Linked DNA regions of Homo sapiens. The protein of the gene in region 1 interacts with the protein of each later gene in a biochemical or structural test. Each region holds a gene or a part of one and is shown on either strand. Other genes may lie near its edges.

Region 1 (3,353 bases):
GAGCTTAGGGGCCACCACGAGGCTCACACTTGGGGCACATCTATGAACTCCCAAGTCCCTTAAGAAGTAATCCCTCTTTGATCTTCATCTGAACCAGGAAGGCCACAAAGAGGAAACTATGGGCCAGTTTCCTCCCATGGGGCACCAGTTCACTGAGAGTGGTCCTAGGGCCCCTGGGATGGTGGTTCGGCAGGCATGGGGTAGGGCTTCATGAGGGATTCTGAGTCCTGCCAGACTAGGAGAGGCCTCACATTTATAAGACCCAGAGAGGTGAGGGCCCTGGCCCAACATCACACAGCCGGGCAGAACAGAGCTGGGCTGAGGGCTCGGCACTCCTCACTCTAATCCCTGGTGCTTCTTCTCTTGCTGACTGTAAAAATGTCTGCTTTTCTGCCCCAGGTGAACTGGAGATAGGGGTCTCCGGGGCTGAAAGGGGTCTTGCCCCCAGCCCTGCCCCACTCCTTCCCCTCCGAAGCCCTGATTGCTGCACTTGTCCCCAGAGAAATCACCCATATTGATTCACAAGACTTTTAAATTTTATTAGTAAAATACAAAATGGCACAGACGTTGGTGATGAGGGTTGGAAAAGTCTTTCCAAAGTCTTCCTACTCTTTCCAAAGTCTTCCTAGATCATCCTTGTCCATGTCCTGCTTGGAGAAACTAACAAAGTCCATGGAAGGGGGACCAACTGGCCCCAGCGGCTTCCTCACAAAGGAGGCAGGGCCCCATCACAGGGTGTCCCACCCCTGGAAGGCTCTCCCAGCCTGGAAGAGCCAGAACAAAGTGCATTGGGCCCACTCCCACCCTCTCTGAGCTGCCAGAGTGACCCCACCTGAGCCAGGCCCTGAGCTTCCTGAATATGCTGCGCCACACCCAGCAGGGGAGTGCAGAGGCCAGGTGGGCAGGGCAGCACAGCGTCTTGCTCTCTATGGACCAGAGCTGGGTTTCCTTCCTCCAAGCACCCATCTGTGAAGGAGTGTTCCTAGCACCTGGGTAGAACCCAGCCCATAAGAGGCCCCTCAGGTAGACGGCAAGGGTCGGGGACAATCCAAGGGAGAGGTGAGCTGCCACCAGGGACCCTGAGGGGCCAGGCCAGCCGGTGCAGCCCCATCCAGGCATGCTCGAGCCTTCAGCAGCCAAAAAAGGGAACCCCTGACTTTATGCCTACAACTTCCCCTTTCCCATGTCCCAGCCCCCTTCCCGGGTAGCGTCCCTTTCAGAAACAAACAGGGGACTCATGGAAAACATCATGGAAATCCCTGGTCCTGTCTGCGGTGGGGACAAAGGTGAAGGAGAAGGTCTTGGAGGGCAGAGAACAGTGTTTTCAAGGAGTGAGAGAGGTGGGAAGGGAGCCCAGCCTCAGGAAAGAATCTGGCGTGTGTGGGGTGGGACCACAAGGGTCTTGTGGCCTGGCTGCCTGCAGGAGTCTCTGAAGAAGCATCAGGAATGTGGCTGCTCCTGGAGCCTTTCCTGGGCTTCTTGGACATGTGTCTGGAGCCCTCCCTCCCTCTTAGCGGGTGATGGGAGGCAGAGCCCGGGCTGTCTCAGTGACTAAGCCTGGGCGGGGCCTTCAGGGATGGTCTCTGCTCTGCCCATTTCCATTTGGGGGCCCACAGGGCAGGGTCTGTGCTATCAACTCACTCCCTTGCAGGCCCTCTGGGCCTCAGGGTCCAAAGACAAGTTAGTCCATTGGCAGGGACTGTCTAAGGTGCTCTGCTGGTAAGGACTGTGAGGCTGCATCCAGGGGCTGGAGAGAAGGGCCTCAGGTCAATGAGTGTTGTCAGGGGGACAGGTATTCCTTACCTCCCTCTTTCCTTTCACAGATGGGAGTATGTTGGTGGCTTGATGGTGGAACTAGGATCAGAACCCAGCCTTCAGACTCAGCACAGTGTAGACCAAAGAGGAAAGTCACCAGATACCCTTATCTCCCCTTCCCACAATGCCTAACCAAGGGCAGAGCCTCACTGGAAGCAGTGCCAGGAAACACCACACTAGCCTCATGCAAGAAAAGACATGTCACCAGTGGGGGCGTGGGCTCTGTACAGAGGATGGGGCTGGGGGAGATAGCACCGCAGGTGGCCGGGGTGACTGGCAACTGCAGCAGGACCAAGAGACACAATCAGGTTGCAGGGAGTGGGCAGAGGGCCTGGCCTGATGCTCATGTGTGAGATGGGAGGACTGTAGTACTCACAGGGCAGCATGGGTCAGAAGGGGCTGGGCATTTAATAAATAATTGTTCATTGGGGCTGGGATGGCGTCAAAGGGAACCTCTAACCAGCCAGCAGCAGAGGAGAGTTTTGGGGCTGGGGTGAGTTGGGAGGCCACCCCCTCTGTCCCTGGCAGGTGGAGAATGGTCAAGGCTGGCCTCCTGGGGAATGCCTGGGAGCTTGGAGCTTGTGCACCTGGAGGATCCCACCTCCCCCCTCCAATCATCCCAGCTCAGGCCAGGCCCTTGGGTGGGGGTGGGTATGAGGATGAGGGATCCCAGGCAGCTGTCTGAATCAAACAACTAGACACAGGCCAGAGGAGTTCACACGGGCACCAGGACATATGAATTACTACCACAGCTCCGGGGGATGTAGCGAAGGCCCTCCGCCATCTCTCCTGCCATCTTTCGAGGGCAGCCCTGGAGGCTCTGGTAGGTGAACATGGCCACCCCCAGGCAGAAGAGGAGGCCAAGGAAGGCCAGCAGCCCCACCGCCTGCCTCCGGGTGGCAGCCTGGGCGTCAGGGACAGGAGTGATAAGGACGCCCAGCCTCTGGGGGTCCATGGTGGCATGGATGGGTTCCTCAGCCTTAGGGGTCCAGCTGCCTGAAGCCACTGGCTCCCTGCTGGGGGTCCCTTCTGAGGAGACAGGGACCACAGAGACGTGGGCCATGCTGCCAGGCCCCCAGTCCTGGAAGGCATCCGTGTGCGCTGGCACGGGACCCATCTCCTCCCGCTCCAGAGAGTTCTCTGGCCTGGGGCTCTGTCCCTGACCCCACACACGCTGGCCTTCAGACGGAGCATTCTCCTCTGGGGCTGGGGAGGACGCAGTGGAGGCCTGGGTGGAGGGGTCCTGGGTGGACGGGGCCTCAGAGGTCTTTGCCTCAGCCCAGAGGCTGGGCCCAGGTTGGTGGGGAGCAGAACTCTGCCACGTGGCGGCAGTGGAGACGGGAGGCACTCGGAAAAGCTCCGTGCCCACAGGCCCTCCATCCTGAGCCTTTGGCGTCGGGGGGAGCCTGGTCCCTGAGGAACCAGTCACGCCCGTCGGCAGCTCTGGGGAGGTCCCCAGGGCCCTCTGTGCTTCCTGGGAAGAAGGAGTCGGCTCCAGGCTACTGCTTTCGCCTGTGGCTTCGGGCTCCAGGACCACA
Region 2 (7,298 bases), on another chromosome or scaffold:
CATCTTGTTTGGCCAAAGTGCAGCTTTTTAGCTTGTGAGTAAGGAAGAAAAGCTGTATCATATGTCTTTAAACATCTTCCTAGACCACCTTTGTTTTCCCCTTAAAGTGTGCTTAAGGAGAAAATGGAAAGTCTCTTTTCAGTGTGTTGTATTTTGTTTATTGCAAAATACAACACACTGAAAGAACAATGTCTGGGTTAGCAAAGTATTAGATTTAATTTCCCACATTACTACCATCCAGGCTGAGAAAGAGAACCCCAGAAGCCTCTCTCATGTCCCTTCCTGACCACAGCCTCTTCCTCTCCCACAAAGAACCACAAGTCTGACTTCTATGGTGATCACTTCCTTGCTTTTCCCTATAGTTTGACTGAATCTAAATATCATCCCTAAACAATATAGCTTAGCTTTGCCTATTTTTGATCTTCATATTTGGATTCATACTTTTTGGTTTGGCTCAAGACTAAACTTTTAAAATGCATCCACGTTGTAGGAGATGTACATGCACAAAAATTTTCACGGCAACATTGTCCAAACTAGCAACAAACTGAAAGCCACCTATGTGTGCATTAGCAGTAGAAATGGCAATAAATCATGGACTAGTCACACAGTGGAATCCTACGCAGCAAGGAGAATTAGCAGTCTACAGCCAAACCAACAGCATGGGTGAGATGCTTCCAGAAATACTGAGATGAATTTAGAGATAAAGGCACAATTGGTCCATATCTACAGGGCACTTAATCCAGTGCATCTCCACTAGACAAAATTTGTATTTCCATGAGCAAGAGTCATTTGCACTGCTATCTGCTATAACCTACGGTGCTGTAAAATTAGCTCAGGCAATAAAAGGGGGAGGTAGCCCCAAAGAGTATGCCAGAAAGGACTCCCAGTAATCTTCAGTGTGTGTCTATTTCAAAGTCTTTCATCATTTTTCCTTGTAGTTACTTAGTGTGGAATTTCAGACCCCTCTCTATGTCCCTCTTCTCCCTTTTCAGCCTTGGCTTTCTCTGCATCCTTCCCCGAAGCCCTGCACTCAGCCTAAACTGACTTTCCTGAACACTCTGGGAGCATGTGGGCTCCTCCCAACTCCACCATCTTCACTGCCTTCTGTTCCTATTTCCCTCTGCCTGGCCTTGGCCCCAGGAAACCTTCCTATGCTCAGACCCTCTGTGCCTTTGTCTTCAAAGCCCACCCACTATTCACTGCCACCTCCATCTTGGTCAACCTGGAAGACTTTCCCCATCCTTAAAACATCAGCTCAAACGGCAGATTTTTTTTTTTTTTTTTGTGATATCCTCTTGATCACCCTCCCCCAGTTTTTAAGGAGACAGATATAGAGGTTCAATCCTTGGGCTTCCCATGACTTTTCTTATATTCTGTTACTGAGCAATAATAAACACTTCTAGGAACTGTATCTTAAACACTTTTGCCTCTACAGAATCTAGCACAGTGCCTAGTATTGGTGAAATATAATTAACAAAGTCTTCTTTCAACACAGAGATTCTCTCCACAAAAGGAGTAGAGAAAGAACAGTTTTATTATGGAATAAGCAGTAAACCAAAATATGCAGAGCATTATAGGCCATCTACTAAGAGGTTGCAAGAACAGAAAGAAATCTCCCCCTTTTGTATAGCCAAGTAGATACAACCTGTTACATACATGTTATCAAGGCAAACAATAACTGTTCCTCAAGTAAGAGGTCTTGCCAGCACCGTTTGCCGTACATGGTTCACTCTAAATTTACCTGGTAATTAGGGTAACCACTTGTGTTAGCTAACTGGCTCTACCCAGAGGAAAATCAAATTTATCTTTAAGACAAGGGGTAATTTTGCAGCACTGAGCAAGGCTCTTCAGTTAGGCTCATACCTTCCCACAGAAACTAAGAGATAGAAGCACTATCTCCCTTAGGTTTGTTTACATTTCAAAGAGATGACGCCCAGGTCCTTGGGAAAGACTAGCTTAGCTCATAAAGCTGACAAAAAGCCTATCTAGTTTCAAAAGGATTTACACATGTTCAAAGAGAGGAGAAAGTATGTAAAAGTTTTCTAGGTGGGCACGGTGGCTCACACCTGTATTCCCAGCACTTTGAGAGGCTGAGGCGGGTGGATCACCTGAAGTCAGGAATTTGAGATCAGCCTGGCCAACATGGTGAAACCTTGTCTCTACTAAAAATACAAAAATTAGCTGGGCATGGTGGTGGGCGCCTGTAATCCCAGCTACTTGGGAGGCTGAGGCAGGAGAATCACTTGAACCCAGGAGGTGGAGGTGGCAGTGAGCCAAGATGGCACCATTGCACTCCAGCCTGGGCGATGAGAGTGAAACTCCATGTCAAAAAAAAAAAAAGTTTTCTAAAGTAAATGCTCTGAGAAAAAAACAGAAGGTGAGGAGATCTCTGTCCTTATTTTTAACAAGAATAATTAAATGTTTTTATTTTTAATTTCTACTTAGACTAGAATATGGTACAGATGCTCAAAAATATTGACTTAATTAATAATTAAACAATTAACAAGTCTATCTCTTTCCTAATTATTAAAAAAATTATGAAGTATTTCCCTTCAAAATTTCACAGTTTACTTTGACATAAATAAATAAATACCATAAAGTATTTTGAAGAGGAAAGGGAAGGGTGGGGCTTCAAACACAAAATAATGGCAGGTTTTGTAAAGGGGCAATTCACTAAACCCAATAGGATTCTCCTGTTGCTATTTTTTTTTTTTTTTTTTTTTTGGTGGTGGTTGGAGGGAAGGGTTGGGTGTGCATTTGGCCTGTGTGAAAAACTGGTGGGTAGACAATGCCATGCTGTTCTAGATGGGCTCATTGCTATAGGAATAGATAGTCACTGAATTTACTTGCATAGGGGATGGGGTATAAAATGTTTCCTTATAGCTCCTTAACATGGAATTCAGCACCCCTCTCCCCATCAGCCTTAGCTCTCTCTGAATCCCAAGGGATATGTGTTATAAAAATAGCTGCCATCATAAATGAGAAAACCATCAGGACCTGGTAAAACTTGGCTTCCCAAACAGTCAGGGGTCTGGGCATGGCAGCCGACTGAGAACCTTTCTATCTAGTACAAGGTAAACAAGATTTGCCAAGACTTGATCAACTGATCCAGCTCCCTATCTCCAAACAGAACCTCATCTGAATGCTCACAGGCTGTGCCCCAGAAGTGTAGAAGTGTCATGTTCCCTGGGCAGGCTGCTGGGCAGCCTCTCTGTTGACAATAGACCACACTTTTGCTGACCTAGGACTCATGTTGCTCTTTAAGACTGCTTCCTTGGCCAGGCATGATGGCTCACACCTGTAATCCTGGCACTTTGAGAGGCCCAGGCAGGAGGATCTCTTGAGGCCAGATGTTCAAGACCAGCCTGGTCAACATAGTAAGACCCCATATCTACCAAAAATAGCTGGGCATGGTGGTGCACACCTATACTCCCAGCTACTTAGGAGACTGAGGTGGGAGGATTGCTACATCCCAGGAGTTCAAGGCTGTAGTGAGCTATGATCATGCCACTGCACTCCAGCCTGGGCAACAGAGCGAGATCCTGTCTCAAACAAACAGTTTCCTTCTGTTTGATTCTTGCTGAAAAATTGAGCATGCCAGAGCTAGCAAGGCTCTTAGAGGTGGTCTGGTCCAATGCTTTAATTTCATACATCAAGAAACTGAAGCAGAGCAGAGTGACCTGCCCAGGGTCTCTCAGCCATTCATGCTCAGAAATGTATGGGCTCCTGTGAAACATGTGGCTCTTAAAAGCACTATCATATATTTGAAGGCAGAAAATAGGCTAAACCTTCAGCCTTCAGACTTTTCCTCTCCAGAGAAAATGACCCCAGTTTCCTCACTATGGTTGCTGGGAGCTAGATTCCTGGGGATCTGGCAGTGTGGACCACCTAGTGGTGGCTAGAGGAGCAAATAATATCCCGCATTCCATTTTCCACTCACCAATCCCTGAGGGGCAGCCTGCTGGGTTATGAGCCCACAGGGGGAGAACCCCAACGAATTCAGAGATGCATCATGGACCAGTTTCTCTTAAGGGGCCTGGGTCTACTATTTTCAGTTCTACTTCGAGAGAAGTGGCCTGCAATATCCTGCAGATTTCCCCTCCAGGGAGAAAAGCATTGTGCGGTGCAAGGAGCACAGGCTTTGTGGAAAGAGGCATCTGGGGTTGAGATCCTGGCTCTTTTGCTTCCTTGAACAAGTTAACCAAATCTCTGGGCCTCTGCTGGTTAATTTATACCATGGGGATCATCATTTCTCCAGTGGGGTTGTGAAGAGAATGTGGTGGGATCTTGTGTGTGGAGCATGACACTTAGCAGGCATCCGGGAATGGCAGCCTCCTCCCTTTCTAAACTGGGGCTTTCTGAGGGTGACTTCAGATTCCACAATGTCAACAGCACAATGGCATCCTCATAAGGAAAGTTTGGGTTGGGGCTCCTCAAGCAATTCTCTACTCTCATTTGGTACAAAGAAAAAAATTAAGCCTCACAATTTTCTTGGCACCAGACTGAACCTCAAACCCAGTCTTCACTTTTACTAAAAAGCCATAAACAGAGACCAGGAGGGTAAAAACTACCAGAAGATACACTGGATTTAGAAAACAGTAAGCTGGATGTGAAGCCAAAAGAGAGGGAGAAAGCAACATAAAAGAATGTCAGATTGAAGAAGAAATGGATTCTGGCCACCTAAAGAAGAAGGGAAGTATAGAAAAGGGAAGCTGATTGGAAACAATGGGTAATGATGAGTGTCCCTCCCCTAAAAAGTTAAAAAATAAATGAGCAGGCATGAGAAAAGGAAGTAGGCCAGAGGAAGTAGACCAGGATCAGCCACGGATGTGAGTGGGGAATTTTACAAATTTCTACTTGGGTGTGAAACATGTGTACACTCAAAGCTCTGTCTAGGTTCACCGAAACTCTCCCAGCTCAAGGCCATTTAGTAAAACCTTGGCTTAACTGAATAGTGGGTAAGGAGGCCTGAGGATGGCCCAGAGAAGGTTTAAATTCTTACTGGCTGCTGCACTAAGTTGTAAAGTGCAGCCTTAGTTGATGATGCCTTTATTAGTGCAACATCCCAGAATGCATGCGTCTTACAACCCTTGTGGATATGAAACCCAGCTGGGTAGACACTGCAAAGTCTTCTCATTTGATTCTTCCACTTGGTTTCTAGTGTCCCTCAGGGACAAAGGAAAGCCATGGTCCAGTCTAAGATGAAAACCAATTAGACCTCTGGCAGGCCTTTGACCACCCTGAGGGCCACCCCCAAGGCACGGCCACACTCGCATCTGCTGCCAGGAGGCCCTATCTTAGGCTCAGCTCCCAAACCTTGAACATCTTGGAGGATCCACAAATAGGAGGTACACTCAGCTCAGGCTCAGTCTTCCTTAAAAAGCGCCTTGCTAAAGCTATCAAGTTCACTGGAATACTTCTGCGAAGGACACAGCTTCAGCGATGTCAGATTTTTTATGTAAATGGTGCCTTCACATGCTCTGGGGCATTTGGCTACCAAGGGCGGTTTGAACTAGCTCCAGCACACAGAATACAAGTCTCTTCAGAACCAGGCAAAACCCTATGTTGCCCAATGACTCCTGCTGTTTCTTGAGATTTGCACAGAAGACAGAGCTGCAATTACCCACGCTGATATCTATTTCATGACCACATATGTTCAAAAGCCACATGTGAGAGGTATGGTTGAAATGAGAGGTTGTGTTTGCCAAGTTGTCTTCTGACTGTGGAGAGCTGGTGAGCCTCTTCTCATCTCCTGGGGCTCCATATTATAGAGCTGACGAATCTCTTTTCTTGCTCCTTGAAGTCTTTCATTCACTTATTTATTAATTCATTTAACACATCAGGCACCTACTAACTTCTCAGAGTTCAAGGCTTCCTAGCCTATGATCAGAAAGGACACCTGTGTGCTCATGAGCACCCCTGGGATCAGGGTGACTGATAGGGTGCTGTCATCACTACTAGATGAAACTCTTTGGAACAAAGGTCTAGGATATAATATTTATCCTTCTGCAAATATTCATATGGCATTCGCTGTGTACCAGGCCTTCTGTTGAACATTGGCCTGCAGAGCTGAAGAGGACGTGGGTCTTCTCTTAGGAACTCCTAGTCTTGGGAAAAAGGAATGGGGAAGGGCTGTAATGTGAAGTTAAAAAAAAGTGCTGAGGCCGAACACATCTGGGCCCTCACTGCAGCCCTATTGCACACACACTGCATCACCTCGAACAAGTTATTCACCCTCTCTGAATTCATCTATTTGCCCATAAAAATAGAGATGATCCTTTTATATGTTGGCTACCACTTATTATGTGCAGCATGCTTGTTATTGTACTAAGTTACTCATTTTTTAGTTTTTCATATAACTCATATTTTTGTTGATTTTTATTTTAAAATTCCAAACGAATTAATTAAACTATTTTCCAAAATACGTAGTATGTGTACATGGTAAAAAACATTTCCAAAAGTTTACCATAAAAACTGTCTCCTTTCCCATATCCTCAATCCTTCAGAATCCCTCTCCAGGGATAATTACCACCACCAGTGTATTCCTTAAGAGATATTTAAACTTTATACAAAATACGCACACATCATTCTTTTCCACAAATGACAGCATACTATGTACATGGTACCTCACCTAGCTTTTTTCACTTACCAGTATATCTTAGAGATTGTTGCATGACAGAATATACAGATCTGCCTGTTTTTGTTGTTTTTCCCAAGTTTCCAAGAGCTAGAAACTGTTTGGTTTTTAAGCAGCTGCTTGGTATTCCATTAATTGGACTTATCGTGCTTTGATCTGTCCCTAGTGATGGACATTGGGGTTGTTTCCCTTCATTTATATTTGAAGCTTGTTGCAGTGACAGTGTACACACTTGCTTGAGCATGTGTGTGTCTACGATAAATCCCAATAAGCAATTTAAAGTAATTTAATTCTTATGCTCTCAACAAACCTAAGAGGTTATTTTTTTAGAGGAGGAAGCTAAGGCTGTTGTTTTGATGCCTTTTTACCACTGGACTTGGGACTCAACTGTTTGATAGTCATCGAGTCCTTGACTCTTCTCCCCTGCCAGGATTTGGCCCCTAAGCCCAGGGCCCGAGTCTCCTCCATCTTCAAGGGAGAGTGGGAACAGCACAGGCCTTGGCCTCAGTCCTGCTCCCCCTGCTTCTAGCTGTGGGATGGGCCAGGTGCTTCACCCAGCTGTGCCTCCTGTGAGGCACAGTGTGTGCAAAATGGAAATGTGAACATGAAGATCAAAAATGTCCCTCAATGACCAGTGCTGTTCCTCAGAGTCACGTGGGAA

The links.
Region 2: the proteins of CX3CL1 (region 1) and CX3CR1 are reported together in a solved structure, tested with the Homo sapiens proteins (one study listed by BioGRID).

What each region holds. Positions count from the first base shown.
Region 1 is NC_000016.10:57,382,210-57,385,562, reverse strand, and holds the end of CX3CL1 (fractalkine isoform 1 precursor), read right to left. Parts: coding exon 2,531-3,353; 3' UTR 519-2,530; downstream 1-518. UniProt on the Homo sapiens protein: Chemokine that acts as a ligand for both CX3CR1 and integrins ITGAV:ITGB3 and ITGA4:ITGB1. The CX3CR1-CX3CL1 signaling exerts distinct functions in different tissue compartments, such as immune response, inflammation, cell adhesion and chemotaxis.
Region 2 is NC_000003.12:39,269,908-39,277,205, reverse strand, and holds part of CX3CR1 (CX3C chemokine receptor 1), read left to right. Parts: intron 1-7,298. UniProt on the Homo sapiens protein: Receptor for the C-X3-C chemokine fractalkine (CX3CL1) present on many early leukocyte cells; CX3CR1-CX3CL1 signaling exerts distinct functions in different tissue compartments, such as immune response, inflammation, cell adhesion and chemotaxis.